Linked DNA regions of Homo sapiens: region 1 is linked to region 2. The links come from fine-mapping of genetic effects on gene expression. A gene starts in region 2. The other region holds a variant in brackets. All regions are shown on one strand. Distances are between the middles of the regions.

Region 1 (2,897 bases), 430 kb after region 2:
CGCTGTGTCCACCTGGGAACCTGAGGTGTGAGGCAGGCACTTGTCGGAAGTGGGGGCTTTGGGCTCCCGCCCGTTGGAGGCATCTTCTGAGGGTGGGGGCGCCTCCTCCTGTCTCTCAGGGGCCCTGTCGCTGGCCTTGGCTAAGCCGGCAGCGTACGAGGCACCAATGACGCCTCCCGGGCTGCACTTCTCCCGCAGACGCTCCACCACGTCCTCCCTGCTGTCCCCGCAGCTCCCACAGCACACGCAGGAATGCAGAAGGCAGTTGGTGGCCCCAGTGCTAAGCTTGTGGGGGCCGCCATCCATCCCCTCGGCCACGGGCTCCGAGGCGGCCTCCTGGGTGGCGACCGCAGAGTCCAGGGAAGTGGGCGATTTGGGGTTGAAGATGACCGTGGCTGAGAGCTTCATGCCCCCTGTCCGGTGGGCGATCATCTCAGCCGTCTCTGCGTCATCCGCACCCACCTCCCAGCCGTCCAGGTGCAGCCGCGAGTCCAGGCAGCTGCAGGAGCTGGTGCCCGCGAGGCTGGCCCCATCTGTGCCCTCGGCCTCGAGATTGTTGTTGCTCAAGTCCTCCTCCTTTTCCGAGGCGGGCAAGCTGATCCCCGCCGCTCCGCCTGGCCCACCCTGCCCTTTCTCCTGGGGGTCGGCCCAGGTACTGCCTGCCCACCCAAATGGGCCAGCTGGGGACTCGGGCCTGGCCAGGGCTTCTGCCGTCCCCTCCACGTCATCCATGAAGAACACGCGCTCCTCCTCGTCACTGCCTGACCGCAGGCGCGGTCTACCTGGAGAGGCCTCCCCGCCTGGGCTGCCCTCCGCTCCTGGCCTGTGAGCTGGGGACTGGCAGGCAATGGGCGGTGAAAGCAAAGAGGACATCTCGTCCCCCGCCCTGTGGACCATGCGGCTGAGCTGCTCCAGCTCCTGGTCGTCGTACTGCATGGAGCAGGCCAGCTCTGCATCCGGGTCTTTGGCCTTAGCTGAGAGTGGCCCCTCAGGGGGGAGAGGGGCAGAGAGGGCAGGCGCCAGGGCAGCGGGTCCCTGCACGTCTGCGCGGATGGGGAACTCCACGTCTTGGGAAATGCAGAGGTTCCGTTCCAGCGTGTGCAGCTCCTCCTCCGTCAGCGTCTGCAGCAAATCCCTACGAATCAAGACAAAACCCAAGGGTGAGGGTCCCAAAAGCCACACCAGCCTCCTTGGCCAGGAGTGGACGCAGCACCCTGGAGTCTGCACCAGCAGAACAACAGCCAGGCACTGAATGCTTGCAACTGAATTCTCAAGGCACCAGCACGTCTCCTCCACCACGGAACAAGGCTCCGGTCTCGCCGGCCAGGACAACGGTGTTCAAGGTGGCCGGCTGGGATTCTAGTACAGTTTCTTTTTTAAAACAAGATTCTGGAAACTTTTGCTGAAAAGAAGAAAGCCCTAATTGTTAGGCATGTGTTAGCTGCATGAATAAAAACTCTAAGGAGTGAAAAAATACATGCTGGTTTACACATAAACCTTCATCCTTTCATTCCACAAATACCATTGGGCACTGGCTATGCAGCAGGAGCTGGGTACCAGGACACGAGGAAGAAGGCAGGCATGCTCCTGCCCTTGTGGACTTAGCCTGCAGTTGGGTGAGGCAGATGATAAACAAGCATTTATACAAACAATGACTGAACTACAATAA[T/C]GACAGCTGCAACCAAAGACAATGCAAGCCATGAAGGAGGGTGCAGCAGGGCACCTGGCTGAGGCCGGGAAGGCTTCCTGGAGGAAGAAGCATTGAGGCCGAGACCCAAAGGTGCAGTTAATTCAGTGATGCTGAGCAGGAAGCTCCTGGAGCAGGCTCCTACAGGCCGACTGTGGGCTGCTCTCTGCTGCGAGAAGCTCCGGGTGTGTCTGTGGTCTGAGTCCCACATGGGACATTCCAGCACAGCCATGGCTATTGTGAGGAAGTGCGCTTTGCAGAGCTGGGCAGAACTTTCATAAGCTGAATCCACCCATGTGAATAGCACCCAGATTTAGAAGTGAAACCCCAACCAGGCCCCCGGCACCCTGGCTCTCGCATGACACCATCCTGACTCCATAGGCCGAGGCACGCACCTGCTCTGCTTCTCTGAGGAAATGGGAATTCTCAGTCTACACTCTCTTGTGGCAGGATTTGTTTGCTGATGTTATATTTGTGTAGAATCTCCAGATAAAATATAGGACACCCAGTTAAATTTCAATTTCAGATAAACAACAAATAAGTACTTTTAAAATGTCATTAGAAATAGTTGTAAGTGTACTCCAAATGCTGCCCATTTGGGACATGCACTAAAAAGAGTTTTTTGTTTATCTGAAATTCTAACTGAACTGGGCTTTCTGCTGTTGTATTACTAGATCTGGCAACGCTATTTCGTAAGATTCACCCATCATAAAGCACGTTGCCATAGGTCATTCATTCTTGTGGCTGCACCGTCTTCCATGGGGTAAATATACGTAGTTCCTTTATCTGTTACACCCGACAGGTTTTGGCTGCTGTGACCCAGCATCTTCGTGTATCTCTCTTGAAGAACATACGAGGGCATTTCTGCTGAATGCACACATGGGGTGGGACTGCTGAGCCTGACAGAGGGGAGCAGCCGGGATCCAGGCACACCTGCCCACAGCTTGGCTGACAGCATGGCTTGCCCCAGGCCCTCGAGAGCACTACTGTCTTTAACTGAATCCTTCCTGGTGAGTGAGTAATAGTATCTTATCTTATTATGGCTTTCCATTGTTTTAGCCTGATGACCAATGAAGTCGGTCACAGTTTACTTATCAGCCCTTAGATTTTCTCTATGTAAAGTTCCTGTTCAAGCTTTTTGCCCATTACTAATTGGGTTGTCTGCCTTTTTCTTATTGATTGAGTTCTTTATATATTTTGGATTTGAGTT
Region 2 (2,897 bases):
GACCTGGGCTGAGGTGTCGTTCTATAGCCCGGGTAGCGCACTTTCACAAAGCTCTCCTTGACCAAACTCTCGCCAGGCTCCCCTGGGCCCGCTTCTCAGCGAGGGCTCAAGCTGGGCCTGTAAAGCTCGAGCAGACACTAAGGCTCAAGGCCGAAGGTGTTCCCGGCTCCCTGAACCTGCGTGACAGAAAACCCAAGGCCGCCGGCTCCGGCAGCACCTGGAGGCAGGAGCCGAACTTCCATGGGCGGCGGGCAGCAAATCACACCGGCTTCAACCGCCCGGCCCGCCCACTTTTTGCAGCGTCTGACTTCCCCGCTCGCCCGCGCCGCTTCCTCCTCCTCCCTGTGCCGCACGCAGTCGCCCGCGCCACCCCCTGAAGCCCGGCTCTACCGCAGCGGCGCTGGGGTAGCGCCCCTGGACCAGGCGTCCTCCCCTCGCGAGCGGTCCTCCCGCAGCCGCGCCCAGCTCCGGGTCGGACCCTCGCCCGGGGGACTCGTTCACGCCCTGCGGCCGTTAGGCGGGAAGAGCACGACGCCCTGCCCTGCCCCGTCGTGGCGTCTGACCCTCTCCGCCACGTCTGTTCTGAGGCTCCGGGCCCGCCACGGCGGGGCCTCTGCGGCGGTTTCCCCACCCGTCCCCGCACTGCCGCTCCGCGAGGCGGACGCCGCTAGCAGCCTCCCGCGGGCCCCAGGCCCCGCGCCCCTCTCACGGGACAGGAGCTTGGGGACCCGCGCGGGCGGGCCGCGCGCCCAACGCCAGCCTCCGCGGCCGCGCGCCCACGGCTCGGGGGCGCCGGCTCCGGACGGTGATTGGGCGCGGATCGTGACGTCACTGAGCGCGGCGCCCGCGGGCGCCGGGTCTGGGCCGGGTGCGCGCCGCCGAGTAGCGGGAGCAGGGCGCGCGCCCGGCGCTACTCTGAGGCGGCTCGCGGGGCCCGCGGCCCGGCCCTCCCGGCGCTGCCAGCCCCGCCCGCCCGCGCGGCCCCCACCCGCCGCGTGCCTGCCCGCCCCGCCCGTGCGCGGCCCCGGCGCGGATTTGAAAAGCCCGGTCCGCGGGCCCCGCGAGCGCGGCAGCCAATCAGCGGCGCGCACTTTTCCCGCGGCTTCTGCGAGGCGGCGGCGGCCCCGGCTGCGGCGGCGGCGGCGGGCGGGAGGCGCGGGGGCGGGGTCGGCGCCGCGCGCGAGAGCCTCGGCCTGGCCGCGCTGCGCCCGCCGCCGCCGCCGCCCCCTCCCCGCCTGGGCCCTACCGCCGCACGGCCCCGGCCCCCTCCCAGCCTGCCGCTCCGGAGAGCCGCCCGCCGAGGATGCGACGCACCGCAGGTCACTGGGGCGCCCGCCCAACAGTCGCGGGCCGCCAACCGCCGGGGCTGGGGCCGGGAGGCCGGGCTGTGGGAGGCCTGAGGGGCGGCGGGGAGGACCGCGGAGGCCTGAGGGGGCGGGAGCGCCGGGAGGAGTGGGGGCACTGAGGAGGCCTGAGGGGCCGGCTCAGGGGCTGGGGGACCGGGAGGCCGGGCGGCCTGAGAGGGTCGTGGGGACCGCGAGGACCGCGGAGGCCTGAGGGCCGGCGGGAGGACCGGGCGGACCGCGGAGGCCGGGACGAGTCCGGGCAGGGGAGGGGCGGCGGCCTGCGGGCGGCGGCGGCTAACGGGGCCGGGCGGGCGGGCGCGGCCATGTTGGGCCCGGCCGGGCCCTGCGGCTGCACCTGTGCCCGGCCCGGCCGAGGCGGCCGCCTTTGTTCCCGCGGCGCCGAGCGGGTCGGGCCGGCCTTTGTGCGGCGCCCCCGGTCCGGGGCGGCCGCGGTGGGAGGGGCAGGTTGGGGTCCCGGGGCCGGCGCCGGGGCCAGGGGTCGGGCCGAGGGTCGCTTTTTGTTTGCAGGCGGTGTCTGGCGTTGACACTCGCGGCGCCCGGGCGTTGGTCAGCGCGGACGCTCCCCCGGGAAGCCGGGCCGCGGTCCGGCCCTTGGCAGGTGGAGGCGGGGGTGAGCCGGGTGTGGGTACCCTGCTGGGGGGCTGCGCGCCCTCGGCGTCCGGGCCTCCGCCTGGGATGTTCCCCTCGCCCCAGGATGCAGATTGATAGTCCTTGAAGCCTCAGTGCATGAGATGGGACCTGGCGACTTAATGGCTGGTTTTGCTCCACTCACAGGAACCGTGGTTTAAAATCTCGGCGTTTAAAAAATGCTGGTCTTAAGTTTCGGTAGAAATAAAATGGATGAGGGTATTGTATAGGACCCATTGCAGCACGAATCTTTCTGTGCCCACGATGGGCTTTGACATTCAAGTGGAAACATAGTATCAAAACTGATGTGGTGACGTTAATCGTTTTTAGGTAGATAACGTGTATTTTGTGTGTGTGTGTGTGTGTGTGTGTGTGAGAGAGAGAGAGAGAGAGAGAGAGAGAGAGAGAGAGAGAGAGAGCGCGCAGACCCTGTGAAGACAAGACTAATTGGATAAAGTTCAGGCCTGGCTCAGGAGCAGCTCTTCAGTGCTACCCACCTGCTTCACAGACTTTCAAGCCTTGATTTTTAAATGAGTTAAACGCCAGCATCACGCATGGGTTATATTCACTCTATTTTGTGTATTTCAAATATCAACGTGGAAAATAACTTAGGAGCCATCCCATTTATGAACTTGGGACTTAAACTTTTTAATTTTCCCAAAATGTTTTAAGTGCCCTAGTTACGTATTTAAATGTGATGAGAACAACAATATTTTAAAGAGCAGAACGCCAACAACATAAAGCAAACAAGTTCTGTGAGCACAGCCTTTCCTTGTGTACTTGATGTGTGCTCTCATTCCCCACAACTGATGGTGGTTCAAATCTAAACTGCCAAATGGAGATGAAGAGGACTCATGCTTTAAGCACGATTACTTTGAGTCATTTCCTTTTCTTTCCTTCCAT

Direction of the effects. Positions count from the first base shown, and alleles are read on the strand shown. Sizes are in standard deviations (SD) of each study's normalised expression.
For the expression in sun-exposed skin of the gene that starts at base 1,170 in region 2, C is the high allele of the variant in region 1 and T is the other (small effect, 0.14 SD a copy in GTEx).

What was found. PIP is the estimated chance that this variant, and not a neighbour inherited with it, causes the effect. A credible set is the group of variants that fine-mapping cannot tell apart.
Region 1: its variant is the best candidate, but not a certain one, in a credible set for the expression of NSD2 in sun-exposed skin (GTEx, PIP 0.60).

The regions. Positions count from the first base shown.
Region 1 is chr4:2,304,402-2,307,298 of GRCh38, forward strand. ZFYVE28 (zinc finger FYVE-type containing 28) reads right to left here. Exons shown (of 13, transcript NM_020972.3): 8 at 1-1,135. Among named protein-coding and RNA genes, the nearest start is that of MXD4, 44 kb to the left of the region's middle. The variant T/C (reference allele first, on the strand shown) is at 1,670.
Region 2 is chr4:1,870,224-1,873,120 of GRCh38, forward strand. NSD2 (nuclear receptor binding SET domain protein 2) reads left to right here and starts at 1,170. Exons shown (of 22, transcript NM_001042424.3): 1 at 1,170-1,319. RefSeq lists an enhancer at 99-600 and silencers at 334-593, 624-853, 904-1,603.